Linked DNA regions of Homo sapiens. The protein of the gene in region 1 interacts with the protein of each later gene in a biochemical or structural test. Each region holds a gene or a part of one and is shown on either strand. Other genes may lie near its edges.

What was found. The genes of interacting proteins can lie anywhere in the genome.
Region 2: of the proteins of TRPM7 (region 1) and MYH9, one has a biochemical effect on the other in vitro, tested with the Homo sapiens proteins (one study listed by IntAct).

The regions. Positions count from the first base shown.
Region 1 is NC_000015.10:50,676,188-50,684,172, reverse strand, and holds part of TRPM7 (transient receptor potential cation channel subfamily M member 7), read left to right. Parts: intron 1-7,985. UniProt on the Homo sapiens protein: Bifunctional protein that combines an ion channel with an intrinsic kinase domain, enabling it to modulate cellular functions either by conducting ions through the pore or by phosphorylating downstream proteins via its kinase domain.
Region 2 is NC_000022.11:36,377,968-36,384,967, reverse strand, and holds part of MYH9 (myosin-9), read left to right. Parts: intron 1-7,000. UniProt on the Homo sapiens protein: Cellular myosin that appears to play a role in cytokinesis, cell shape, and specialized functions such as secretion and capping. Required for cortical actin clearance prior to oocyte exocytosis. Promotes cell motility in conjunction with S100A4.

The DNA.
Region 1 (7,985 bases):
TCAGAAAAAAAAAAAACGACTTAATCAGGTGGGGCGCAGTAATCCCCATACTTTGGGAGGCGGCGACAGGCTGATCCCGGATCACTTGAGGTCAGGAGTTCAAAACTAGCCTGGCCAACATGGTGAAACCCCGTCTCTACTAAAAATTAGCAGGGCGTCGTGATGGGCACCTGTAATCCCAGCTACTCGTGAGGCTGAGGCAGGAGACTCCGTTGAACTTGGAGGCGGAGGTTGCAGTGAGCCAAGATTGCGCCATTCACTCCAGCCTGGGTGAGAGTCTTTCTCAAAAAAAAAAGACTTGATCAGATTCTAGTTTCATACTTTGACAATACTCATAGATAGTACTATGTACTTTCTGTTGCATTACATTAAGAGGCACATACTGTCTTTGTTTTTTGAGAAGGAGTCTTGCACTTGTTTTTTTTGTTGTTGTTGTTTTATTTTGTTTTTTTTGGAACAGAGTCTTGCTCTTGTCACCCAGGCTGGAGTGCCTGGCTTGCTGCAGCCTCTGCCTCCTGGTTCAAGCGATTCTGCTGCCCCAGCCTCCCGAAGCTGGGATTACAGGCGTCCACCACCACACCCGGCTAATTTTTGTATTTTTAGTAGAGACAGGGTTTGCCATGTTGGCCAGGCTGGTCTCAAACTCCTGACCCCAGGTGATCCACCCGCCTCGGCCTCCCAAAGTGTTGGGATTACAGGCGTGAGCCACTGACCCTGGCTTCTTTTTTTTTTTTTAAATGTTAAGATTGACCAGTGGATTCGTGTTGTCTGATGCCTGATCTCTCAGTTGTGAAGTTCCCCATATGTTATTCATGTAGTAGTTTTTGTAGTAGTCATTTAGTTTTTGTCATTGATCTATTATTTCATTCTGGGTTTCCTTTTCTCCTTTCTTTTTGGGAAATCTTTCAACATATAAGTAAATTGCAGTTTTTTTTTTTTAAGTGACTGCCTGTTAAATGTCAAATGCTTTAAGTTTGGTACCTGGGTCAGGGTGCAGTGGCTCATGCTTGTAATCCTAGCACTTTGAGAGACTGAGGCGGGTGGATCCCTTGAGCCCAGGAGTACAAGACTAGCCTGGGAAAGATGGCGAAACCCAGTCTCTACCAAAAAAAATAAAAAAACATTAGCTGGGCATGGTGATGCGCACCTGTGGTCCCAGCTACTTGGGAGGCTGAGGTGGGAGGATGGCTTGAGGTTGCAGTGAGCTGAGATCATGCCACTGCACTCCAGCCTGGGTAACAGAACCAGACCCTGTCTCAAAAAAAAAAAAAAAGTTTGGTACCGGGAAGCAAAATTCAGTGGTTGAGGTTAGTTTAGGACATAAGCATTACTTGACTATGGGGATTTTAACTGAGTCATTTATGTGAATCAGTAAAAAGAACTTAAGATGGGTGTCACTTTTAGATGATGCTTTGCAATTATTAGATTAGTTGAATGTGAATACAGTGTTTGACTTGGAGAATTGGACCTCTTGTACTTTATACAAATATGATTAGTTCTAATTTAAATTGTTAGTTCTTTTAGAGATTTTGTTGACTTTTTGGTACAGTTAATTTTGGATTTAGGAAATTGCTCTGGAATTTTTTTTTTTTTTTTGAGATGGAGTTTCCCTCTTGTCGCCCAGGCTGGAGTGCAATGGTGCGATCTTGGCTCACTGCAACCTCCGCCTCCTGGATTCAAGTGATTCTCCTGCCTCAGCCTCTAGTAGCTGGGATTACAGGCACACACCACAACGCCCATCTAATTTTTATATTTTTAGTAGAGATGGGGTTTCACCATGTTGGCCAGGCTGGTCTCGATCTCTTGACCTCATGCTCTGGATTTTTTTAACCTGTTTTTCTGGGACTGTGTATTTAGTTTTCTGTCCACGTAGGGGTTTTAGAACCCTGTTAAAGGAATTTTGGTGTGTGGAGGTAAGCAGTTTTTTGAAGTTGATAAGTCAAGACTTGACTCTTGACATATTTTTGCCAGGTCACAGTCCTTTTTTTTTTTTTTTTTTGAGACTGAGTTTTGCTCTTTTGCCCAGGCTTGCGGTGGCGCGATGTCGGCTCACTGCAAACTGTGCCTTCCAGTTTAAAGTGATTCTCCTGCCTCAGCCTCTCGAGTAGCTGGGATTACAGGTGCCTGCCACCATGCCTGACTAATTTTTGTACTTTTAGTAGAGACAGGGTTTCCCCATGTTGGCCAGGCTGGTCTTGAACTCCTGACCTCAAGTGATCCACCTCAGCCTCCCAAAGTGCTGGGATTACAGGCGTGAGCCACCGCACAGTCTTTTATGAGCATCACTGTTATCTTCTCAATCTGTAAAAGGCAAATGATAATCTTTTCCCTACTTGACCTAAGGAGCAATATTAGGATTAAAGTCTGTGAAACACTGTTTACCCCTCTTACTATCATATAAACATGTCAATAACATAACACCTTAACTATCCAGCTGCCAGACTTCTGGAAACCTTAACCTTTGGAAACAAAGCTCCTTGTGGAAAGTGAGCAAAAAGCTTTTGAGCTAAGTCATCAATAATATAGCAACCCTGAGACAGAGTTCACTGATTGAAAAATGTGTGCAAAGTGAAATTTAACAGGCTTAGTTTTCTGCTTTCTGCTGGCAGTTTGGTAGTATGCTGGAGATAACAGGAGGAAAGTTACCTGAGAAGCAGACTATTACTGTTAGGAGGACACTGGAGAAACATAATTAGACTAGAAAGATAGGGCTATACATTAGCCTTTACTATATGAAATGATAGTCTTCCTAGTCTAATTTATCATACCCAGTACCCGGAAGATACTCTGGACTAAGAGAAGTGTGTAATAGGCTTTAGGCACATTTTTGCATTAGCTAATGTGTCGGCATTTAGCTGTGGCCATTGCTCTGAATGCTTTGTGTGTGTGTGTGTGTGTGTGTGTGTGTATTTATTTATTTTTGAGACGAAGTCTTGCTCGGTCATCCAGGCTGAAGTGCAGTGGCGTGATCTTGGCTCACTGCAACCTCTGCCTCCCGGGTTCAAGTGATTCTCCTGCCTCAGCCTCCTGAGTAGCTGGGATTACAGGCATGTGCTACCATGCCCGGCTAATTTTTGTATTTTTGGTAGAGACGGAGTTTCACCATGTTGGTCAGGCTGGTCTCGAACTCCTGACCTCGTGATCTGCCCGCCTTGGCCTCCCAAAGTGCTGGGATTACAGGCATGAGCCACCTCGCCCGACACTTTACATATATTAATCCCGCAGGAAAATTCTGTGATGTCAATACTGTTTTCTCCATTATTTATATATAAAGAGCAGAGAATCAAAAATCACTTGCCAACGGTCACAAGGCTAATAAGTGGTAGAGTAGGTGTTGACCTGCCAAACTACAGAAACTTGGAGAAGGCTTTTGATATTCAGGGACATGTATATTTGTAAGACCTCAGATGACAGGTGTTATGTCAAGTTAAAAAAGTTAAGGTTTTTTTTAAAAAAGTTATAACTTAAAAAGTTTGCTGTACTTGATTTTCTTCAAATGATAATGAAACCTAATAGAATTTCCTTTACTATCAAATTTCTGTGTATTAACCTTAGGACAGATAATTTACAACTCAGTTGTCTGGTTTTTGTTTTTTTTTTTTTGAGACAAGTGTCTCTCTCTGTCAATTAGGCTAGAGTTCAGTGGTGCGATCTTGGCTCATTGCAGACTCCGCCTCCCGGGTTCAAGCCATTCTCCTGCTGCAGCTTCCCAAGTAGCTGAGGTTACAGGTTGCGCCACCACATTGGGCTACTTTTTGTGTTTTTATTTTTATTTTTTAAAAATTTGTGTTTTTACTGGAGACAGAGTTTTGGCATGTTGCTCAGGCTGGCCTTGAACTCCTGGTCTCAAGTGATCTACCTGCCTTGGCCTCCTAAAGTACTGGGATTACACGCATTAGTCTGTATGCATTTTATTTTATTTTTATTTTTATATTTTTTGAGATGGAGTCTTGCTCTGTCACCCAGGCTGGAGTGCAGTGGCACAATCTCAGCTCCCTGCAGCCTCTGCCTCCCGGGTTCAAGTGATTCTCCTCTGTCAGCCTCCCGAGTAGCTAGGATTACAGGCACCCGCCACCATGCCCAGCTAATATTTGTATTTTTAGCAGAGACAGGGTTTCACCATGTTGACCAGGCTGGTCTCGAACTCCTGACCTCAAGTGATCCACCCACCTTGGCCCCCCAAAGTGCTGGGATTACAAGCGTGAGCCACCGCCCGGTCATGCATTTTATTTTGACAAGTGCAGAGACACATACTCTGGGGCAATCCTTAGTAGATTAGAAAAGTCATTAAATAGATTTCTGGATGGGTGTAACTCTTTGTTAAAAGCAGCAGGAAAAGACTGGGCATGGTGGCTCTTGCCTGTAATCCCAGTGCTTTGGGAGGCTGAGGCGGGAGGATTGCTTGAAGCTAGGAGTTTGAGACCAGCCTGGCCAACGTAGATAACCCCACCTCTACTAAAAATATAAAAATCAGCTGGACGTGATGGTGTGCGCCTGTAATCCCAGCTCCTTGTGAGACTGGGGCATGAGAATTGGTTGAATCCAGGAGATGGAGGTTGCAGTGACTCCAGATTGCGCCACTGCACCCCAGCCTGGGTGACAAAACAAGACTCTGTCTCAAAAAAAAAAAAAAATATATATATATATATATATATATATATTATATATATACACATATATATAATATATATATATATAAATGAAATAAAACCTGTAGAAACCTATCATGAATGTATCAACAAAAGTATCAACACCCTGCTCACTGATAGATAATGGGTTGATATGGCTTACTCGCAGTGTGAACGTCCAAGCGTCCAAGTTTTCTGTTTTGTTTTTTTTGGATAGTGTTTTGCTCTGTTGCCCATGTCAGAGTGCAGTGACATCATCATGGCTTACTGTATTCCCAACCTCCTAGGCTCAAGTGATCCTGCCACTTCAGCCTCCCAAGTACCTAAAATGACAGGCCCATACCACCAACCTGGCTAATTAAAAAATTTTTTTGACTGGGTGCGGTGGTTAATGCCTGTAATCCCAGCACTTTGGAAGGCTGAGGCGGGTGGATCACCAGGTCAAGAGATCGAGACCATCCTGGCCAACATGGTGAAACCCCATCTCTACTAAAAATACAAAAATTAGCCGGGCGTGGTGGCACGCACCTGTAGTCCCAGCTACTCGGGAGGCTGAGGCAGGTGAATCTCTTGAACCCAGGAGGTGGAGGTTGCAGTGAGCTGAGATCACGCCATTGCACTCCAGCCTGGGTGACAGAGCGAGACTTCGTCTCAAAAAAATTTTTTTTTTTGTTTTTGCAAAGATGGGTTTCTCACTCTGTTGCCCAGGTTGATCTTGAACTCCTGGGCTTAAGTGGTCCTCTTGCCTTGGCCTCCCAAAGTGTTGGGGTTACAGGCATAAGCCACTGCACCTGGCCTTAAGTTTTTAAATATATAGAACTTTTCTACCAATTGTTACAGAATTATAGATGCTTTTCAATAATATCTTTAAAACTCTCATAGGGTTCGTATCTAAAATGTCAGTAATATCTAATTATTAATTAGTTGAGTAGTTGGCAGCCAGTTTAGAGTAAGAGTGGAACTCTGTGACATAATAAAATTATGTATATGTGTGTGTGTGTGTATATATATATATATATATATATATTTTTTTTTTTTAAAGAATGGAACTAGAGAGTAGGGTCTGTAAGAGTGTCAGAAAGTCAAATGTATTGAACTCTGATAGGGGAAGTCAGAGAGTGCCAGCTTATTTCAACATTTTGCTTTAGGCTAGTCTTATTTGTCATTGTCTGTGTCACCCTTGGCAGGCATGTTGGTCACCCTTGGCAGGCATGTTGACCCATGTACAAATTTATCACATAACTCTGAATTTCTAGGTGTTGGTTTTTGTTTTTGTTTTTGTTTTTGTTTTTGTTTTTTTTTTTTGAGAGAGAGTCTCACTCTGTTGCCCAGGCTGGAGTGCAATGGTGCATCTTGGCTCACTGCAAGCTCTGCCTCTTGGGTTCACGCCATCCTCCTGCCTCAGCCTCCCGAGTAGCTGGGACTACAGGCGCCCACCACCACGCCCGGCTGATTTTTTGTATTTTTTTAGTAGAGACGTGGTTTCACCATATCGGTCAGACTGGTCTCAATCTCCTGACCTCGTGATCCGCCCGCCTCGGCCTCCCAAAGTGCTGGGATTATAGGCATGAGCCACTGCGCCCAGCCAATTTCTAGGTCTTTAGTGTCATTTAACTTTCTTTTCTTGAGCACATGAACTTTATTAGTAGGCAATTTCTTTTAATTTGATTACCGTTCTTTTGAATATGGGTCACATTTTCCTGTCCATTACCATATCTAGTCATTTTGGAGTGTATATTGGACATTGGGATTGTTACTTAGTAGAGGCTCTGGGTTACCTTTTGTTTTTTTTTTTTTTTTTTTTTTGATACGGGGTCTTGTTCTGTTGCCCAGGCTGGAGTGCAGTGGCGTGATCTCAGCTCACTGCAAGCTCTGTCCCCCAGATTCAAGCAATTCTTCTGCCTCAGCCTCCTGAGTAGCCGGGATTACAGGCGCGTGACACCACACCCGGCTAATTTTTGTGTTTTTAGTAGGGATGGGGTTTCACCATGTTGGTCAGGCTGGTCTCAAACTTCTGACCTTGCGATCCGCCTGCCTTGGCCTCCCAAAGTGCTGGGATTATAGGTGTGAGCCACCACGCCCAGCCTCTGGGTTCTCTTTTAATCCTGTGCTCTGTGTGTGTGTGTGTTGTTGTTGTTGTTATGTACTGAATGTGATCTCCCTCGCTCCCCGAGAATTCATATCTTGAAGCCCTAACCTCCAGTGTGATGGTATTTGGAGATGAGAACTTTGGGAGATGGAGGTAATCAGGGGTAGATGAGGTCATGAGGGTGGGGCCCTGGGTCTGATAGGATTTATGTCCTTAGAAGAAGAGATACCAGAGAGCTTATTCACTCCCTCTTCACTGTGTGAAGACACAGTGAGGAGGCAGCTGTCTGAGAGCCTTCATCAGACACTGGCCCTCCTGGAATCTTGATCCTGAACTTTCAGTCTCCAGAACTGTGAGAAAATTTGTTTCAGTTGTTATCCCACCAAGTCTGTGTGGTATTGGTTGTGGCATCCCAAGCCGACTAAGACAGTTGTTGATTAACTTCATTGTACTCAAACTCCAAACTGTCTCTCCTACAATGGGCAGCAGGAATATCTGCTCAGTTATTTTATTTAGCTGGGCTGCCTGGAGGCTGCCCCATGTGTACGATCTTCATGGGTCAGTGAGAGATTTGTGTAGAATTAATATTAAGTATTTAGGATTCCTTTTCTCAACTCTTGCGGAAACTTTCCCATCACTTTCCAGCTGCTGTTTTCACCTTGAACTGGGTATTCTGGTTCTATAAGTCAGTAAGACTGTGGGATTTCTATTGATATTTTGCTGTTCACTAGGCATAGGATGGGGACTGTTTTCAGGCAAAAAGCCTTAAAAATTGGGAAACTCACTCAATACCATTCCTTTATTCTAAGTATAGACTCCGTCTGGTTTCTGCTTGCTTTTGGTTGCTCTTCAGTGTCCTCAAGTCTTTTTTATCTTTTTATTAAAAAAAAAATTTAAACGATAGAGATGAGGTCTCGCTGTGTTGACCAGGCTGGTCTCAAACTCCTGGCCTCAAGCAGTCCTCCCATCTTGGCCTCCCAAAGTGCTAGGATTACAGGTGTGAGCCACTGTGTCTAGCCTCTTTTTTATCTTTTGTCCAGAATTTATGGTGGTTATCTGAGGGATGGTTAGCCTAATAGGACCTACTTCTCCATAGCTAGAATTTTCTAATTTTAATATATATAATCATAGAATGTATTTGTTAAAAAAAAATTTGATTTCCACATGTTACCTTAACAGCAGAATTTTTTAGGAATCTTTAATTTTTTCCCCCAATTTTTGCTAGCAGCATCTAGGCAGGAAGGATGTGCTGGTAGTGATTTGTTTAG
Region 2 (7,000 bases), on another chromosome or scaffold:
GTGTGCTGAGACCCTGGGCTGGAGTCCTCTGCTGACAAAAGAATGGAGCCCTGGCAGTGCTGCTGCTGTGGCTTACTGAATCCCACTCTTAGAGCTGGGAAGAGTGGGGTAGTGGAAAGAACGTGAGCTTTGGAAACAGGCCGAGTTCAAATCCTGACCATGCTACTTAATAGCTTTGTGACCTTAGGCAAGTCACATAGCCTCACAGCTTGGATGTGCTTATGTATAATATGGGAATCAAGATCCTACCCTGTGGGGTTAGATGCATGAACTGAAAGAAATAAGGTATGTACATGGCCTAATATGTAGTGGCTGTATATATATATATATATATATATATATATATATATATATATTTTTTTTTTTTTTTTTTTTTTTTTTTTTTGAGACAGAGTCTTGCTCTGTCGCCCAGGCTAGAGTGCAATGGCGTGACCTCAGCTTGCTGCAACCTCTTCCTCCTGGGTTCAAGCAATTCTCCTGCCTCAGCCTCCCGAGTAGCTGGGATTACAGGTGCCCACCACCACACCCCACTAGTTTTTATATCTGTAGTTGAGATGAGGTTTCACCATGTTGGCCAGGCTGATCTCGAACTCCTGACCTCAGGTGATCTGCCCATCTCGGCCTCCCACAGTGCTGAGATTACAGGTGTGAGCCACCGTGCCCGGCTCATATATGGTTTTTGTTTGTTTGTTTGTTTTTTGAGATGAGTCTCACTCTCGCCCAGGCTAGAGTGCAGTGGCACAATCTCAGCTCACTGCAACCTCTGCCCCCAAGGTTTAAGCGATTCTTCTGCCTCAGTCTCCCGAGTAGCTGGGATTACAGGTGCCTGCCACCATACTTGGCTAATTTTTGTATTTTTAGTAGAGATGGGATTTTGCCATGTTGACCACGCTGGTCTGGAACTTCTGACCTCAAGCGATCCACCGGCCTCGACCTCCCAGAGTGCTAGGATTACAGGCGTGAGCCACCACACCCAGCACCCCCTCGCCCACTTTTTTTTTTTTTTTCGAGACAGGGTCTCACTCTGTCACCCAGGCTGGAGTGCAGTGGCACTATCTTGTCTCACTGCAACCTCCGCCTCCTGGGTTCAAGCGGTTCTCATGCCTCAACCTCCCGAATAGCTGGGATTACAGGTGCCCGCCACCATGCGTGGCTAATTTTTTTGTATTTTTAGTAGAGACAGGGTTTCACTATGTTGGCCAGGCTGGTCTCGAGCTCCTGACCTCAGGTGATCTACCCGCCTCAGCCTCCCAAAGTGTTAGGATTACAGGCGTGAGCCACCGCACCTGGCACCCCCCCCCCTTTTTTTTTAATATAAATGATCAGTCTTAACTCCCTAGGTTATCAGGTTGAGGGGGTGGGGATGAGGCTGGGGGACAGATTGTTTTCCTGGCTTCTAGCTCGGTGTTCTTTCTGCCTCTGTGCACAACAAGGTATGCGTGTATTGTGGTTGTGGACTGTGGTTGTGGACTGCCTATTCACAAGTGGCTATGAGGCCCATCTGCTGATGCTTTTGGATGCACTTGGTGATGAACTTCTGCTGAGTAACCTCTTCACAGGGCCCCGGCTGGGACAGAAGGTGTGCAGACTGTGGTTTCAGTTCAAACACATGGTTTCCTGTGGTCTGGGAGATAGCCAAAGGGTGATACAGGAAGAGCACTGGACTTGGGTGACTGGAGACCTTACTTCCAACTCTGGCTCTGGGTGAGGGGAGGTTTGATTTCCTTTTTGTTTTTTGATTTCGTTTTGAAGCAGGGTCTTGCTCTGTTGCCCAGGCTATAGTGCAGTAGCATGATCATAGCTCACTGCAGCCTCAAATTCCTGGGCTCAAGCAATTCTCTGCCTCAGCCTCCTGAGTAGCCAGGATTACAAGTGCACACTGCTACACCTGGCTAATTTTTGTGTTTTTTGTAGGGATGGGATCTTGCTGTATTGCCTAGGCTAGTCTCAAACCCCTGGGCTCAAGCAACCCTCCTGCCTCAGCCTCTCAGAGTGCTGGGGTTACAGGTGTGAAATACTGCACCTGGCCAGGTTTGATTTCCGAGGAGGTGCCGTATCTCCCTACAAAGATATCATACCAGTTTATGTGCCCACAAGTTATGTATGGGAGTGCCTGAAAAACTGAAAAATTAAGTAATTTTATTTATTTATTTATTTCTTTATTTGAGATGGGGTCTCACTCTGTTGCCCAGGCTGGAGTACAGTGGCATGATCTTGGCTCACTGCAGCCTCTGCCTCCTGGGTTCAAGCAATATTCCTACCTCAGCCTACCGAGTAGCCAGGATTACAGGGGTGCACCACCACACCCGGCTAGTTTTTGCATTTTTAGTAGAGATGGGGTTTCACCACGTTGGCCAGGCTGGTCTCGAACTTCCGACCTCAGGCGATCCACCCGCCTTGGCCTCCCAAAGTGCTGGGATTATAGGCATGAGCCACCACACCCAGCAAAATCAAGTAATTTTAATTTCCTAGGCACTCTTTTTTTTGTTTTTTGAGACTGAGTCTCGCTCTGTTGCCCAGGCTGGAGTGCAGTGGTGTGATCTCGGCTCACTGCAACCTCCGCCTCCTGGGTTCAAGCGATTCTCCTGCCTCAGCTTCCCAAGTAGCTGGGATTACAGGCGCCTGCCACCACGCCCAGCTAATTTTTGCATTTTTAATAGAAATGGGGTTTCACCATGTTGGCCAGGCTGGTCTCGAACTGCTGACCTCAGGTGATCCGCCCGCCTTGGCCTCCCAGAGTGCTGGGATTACAGGCGTGAGCCACCGCACCTGGCCAGCACTCTGGTACCTTATTGATGGGAGTGTATATTGTACAACCCTCTTTTTAGAAGGTCGTTTGGGGCTGGGCATGGTGGCTCACATCTGTAATCCCAGCACTTTGGGAGGCCAATGGGGGAGGATTGCTTGAGCCCAGGAGTTCGAGATCAGCCTGGGCAACACAGGGAGAGTCTGTCTCTGGGTTACATTAAACAACAACAACAACAACAAAAGAAAGTTGTTTGGCAGTATCTGTCAAAGCATACTCCTTCCGACTATATTCTAGGAATTCATCTCACAGATAAACTCAGATGTGCTGAAGGAAATGTCTGAGAATCTTCATTGCGGCATTGACATAGAAGATGACAGGAAACAAGTTGTGCTATTAAAAAGGTCAACTAAATCATGGTACAGCTGTACAGTGGAAGTCCTTGCATCCCTTTGAAAAATGAGGTCAATCCATATGTACTGATAGGGTGTGCTCTCCAAGCTATGTTGTAAGTGAAAAACACCAGACGCAAAGTAGTGTAAATGGTGCTTCGTTTTGTGTAAAACATGGTATGTAAACTCTGCTCTGTGCATGCAGTATTTCTGGAAAGATACTGAGACCCTGGTAATGGTGGTTGCCTAGGGTCTAGGCAACAGGAGCAGGGAGTGAGCAGTACATTTCACTCAATACTTTTTTTTTTTTTTTTGAGATGGAGTCTCGCTCTGTTGCCCAGGCTGGAGTGGCATGATCGATCTCGGCTCACTGCAACCTCCACCTCCTGGGTTCATGTGATTCTCCTGCCTCAGCCTCCTGAGTAGCTGGGATTACAGGTGTGCGCCACTATGCCCAGCTAATTTTTTTGTATTTTTAGTAGAGACGGGGTTTCACCATGTTGCCCAGGTTGGTCCCCATCTCCTGACTTCAAGTGATCCACCTGCTTCTTCTTCCCAAAGTGCTGGGATTACAGGCATGAGCCAGTGTGCCCGGCCATATTGTCCCTAAAGAATAAAAAATTCAGCTATTTCTTATTTTTCTTAACTATAAAAATAAGGGGTCCAGCTGGCTAATCTGTAGGTCTCAACTTTAAAGTGCATTGCTTTAGGTTCCATATTGCATATTGAATGCCTACCTTTTACAAGGTAAGAGGGAAGGGTCTTTGTGCTTGAAACCTTTGGGTCCTGTTTTCTTCCCATGATGTCACATCACTAGAGTAACCCCTTAAACAGAAGTCCTTTCTGATCTACTTCCTCATATTCTGGGAAATGGTAGATGATTGATTTTTCTTTGCTGTATGAGAAGAGAAAGCCTGCATGTGTGTCTGGAAAGCGTTTTGGGATACCCTCTTGCAAGGTTTCCATAATTCGCTTGGCTCCAAATCATAAGCTGTCCTGTCCTGGGGAGCCCACCCCAACCTGAAGCCCAACCCAGGCCCTCACATACCTGGCTTTCTTTCTTTTCTTTTCTTTTCTTTTCTTTTTTTGGAGACAGAGTCTCACTCTGTTGCCCAGGCTGGAGTGCAGTGGCGTGATCTTAGCTCACTGCAACCTCCACCTCCCAGGTTCAAGCGATTCTCCTGCCTCAGCCTCCCGAGTAGCTGGGATTATAGGCACCTGTCACCACGCCTGGCTAATTTTTGTATTTTTAGTAGAGGCAGGGTTTCACCATGTTGGCCAGGCTGGTCTCGAACTCCTGACCTCAGGTGATCCACCTGGCTTGGCCTCCCGAAGTGGTGGGATTACAGGCGTGAGCCACCGCACCCGGCCACCTGGCCTTCTTTTTTAACTTGGGGTCATTGCATCCACTATTATGCCCCTTCCCACTCTGTCCCCAGTTTCCCCTAAGACATCTGGCCTGTGGTTTTTATGTATAACAACACTGGAAAAGCCCAAATTCTTGAGAAGATGTGATCAGAGGGGTGTTTTGAATGGGAGGGCCCTACCCCCCTTCTCAAGGATGGCTGTCTTTCGCCTTGGATGGTGTGGGCCCTGGGAGGAGCTGCCGGCGCTGCTGTTGTGCCCGATTGACTCCTTTCCTGAGTGAAGTCTGGAAGACCCCATCAGGGTCCTGAGGTCCTGCAAGGCAGCCTCCGGGCCTCCTGGGGGAATGGTGTGAGTCACACATGAGCACACACTATGAGACTGGCTCTAAAATGGGACCGCCACTGCATGGGCGGGCGGCCTGTATCTGTACCCAGCTCCCTGTCCCTTGTGCTTAGATGGCACCAAATATTTGGGAGGCAGGAGGGGAGCTGCCCACTCTGATGCATGTCTCTTTAAAAAGTAACCTAGGCTTCTGTTGGAATTACTCAGGTTCCCATTCCCACGATTAGCTTCTCGAGCCTGAGATGATTCAGCACCCGGGCAGGTGTCCCCAGAGAAGGCCCTTAGCTAGCCCGCCAAGCGCTGGAGCAGCTGGGAGTCCCTCAGTGGCTGTCTGCATCTCTAGCCCAGGACCCTCCTGCTGTGGCTGGAAGGAGCCTTTGCAGGGCCTTCCGGAAGGGTGTGGCTTCCTGCCGTGCAGGTTGGGCTAAGGCCTGTAGTGGGGTTACAGGTAGCTGATCTTCCCCACCCTCGAGTCACTTCCTTGGTACTTCTCAGAGGCCCTTACCATCCTTATGGTATGTCCCAGAGGAGAAAAGGGGCTTCTCAGGGAGGTCCCTCTCTTGCCTTCTTAGGCCAAGATGATGTCTTTCTGTACAACTTTTTATTTTTCTGAGACGGAGTCTCGCTCTGTCACCCAGGCTGGAGTGCAGTGGCGCGATCTCAGCTCACTGCACGCTCCACCTCCCGGGTTCACGCCATTCTCCTGCCTCAGCCTCCCAAGTAGCTGGGACTACAGGCACCCGCCACCACGCCCGGCTAATTTTTTTTGTATTTTCAGTAGAGACGGGGTTTCACCGTGTTAGCCAGGATGGTCTCCATCTCCTGACCTCATGATCCACCCGCCTCGGCCTCCCGAAGTGCTGGGATTACAGGCGTGAGCCACCACGCCTGGCCTCTCTGTACAATTTTTAATGTGTTGGGGGAGCTCGAAGCTAATCTCTGAGTAGGTTGCCACTCACCAAAAGGACGTGGGCCTTAGAAAGAAGAGCCTTTCTTCTTGCATTTTAACTCTAATTTGAAATCATCCCCTGCTTAAAAGAAAAATCAGCAACAACAATGAAAACCCTCCCTACTGGATTTAGAATTATAGAATGCCTGGCTGGAAGAGATGTTGGGAATAATTAAAATAACATTTCTTTTTTTTTTTCCTAATTAGAGAAAAAGCGATTTGCTTAAGCTCATTCTGTGAGTCGGTAGAAAACCTTGGCCCCTGGTTTCGCTCATACCCAGTGCCTTTCCAAATCAGGAGGCTTCATTTAAGCGTGTTTTCTAAATGGTGACTCTCTTTTTTTTTGATGTTTATGCCCTGTTTAGCCAAGCAACACATACTGAGCTCCTTTAATCTTTCCTTAAGAGTCTATTCTTCTACTCCCTTCGTCTTTTTTGTTGTTTTTTGTTGGGGGGCACTAGGGTTAAGGAATGGGGTGGGAAGTGTTTTGGGTTTCTCTGAACTTCTTCCAGCTGGACGTGACCACTTGGGCTGAAAGTTCCCACAGCTCGAAAAATCAATATTTCACATGGGGTGGTGCCAGGCAGCAGGGTGGGCCATTCAGAAAGCCACACTGCTGCCCACTGTCCTCAGCCAGCCCTGATTTCTAGTAACTTTAGGTCACTTAATGTCTCCGGTGATAATTTGTTATATTTTCAACACAAAATGCACGGGAGAAGGAACAAAATAAAGTTTTGGGATCAGGCAGAGCTAGGAGCAGACCCCCCGCCTTTTCTCCTGCTGCTCGCCTTAGTTTTCCCATCTGCACCGTGGAGAAGCCTCTTTCTTAGCATTATAAATGGATGTGAAGTGGTCTGTTCCTCCTCTTCCTCCCCTTCATCTCTCTTCTTTTTTTATGAGACAGCGTCTTGCTCTGTTGCCCAGGCTGGAATGTGGTGGCGCGATAGCAACTCACTACAGCCTCGGCCTCCGTCTCAAGCATTCTTCCCACCTCAGCCTCCTAAGTAGCTGGGATCACAGGTGTGCACCACCAGGCCTGGCTAATTTTTTTTTTTTTTTGTAGAGACAGGGTTTTGCCATGTTGCCCAGGCTTGTCTCAAACTCCTGAGCTCAAGCAATCTACCTGCCTTGGCCTCCCAAAGTGCTAGGATTACAGGTGTGAGCCACCTCGTCCAGCTTCTCCTTTTCTTCATAGTAACAATA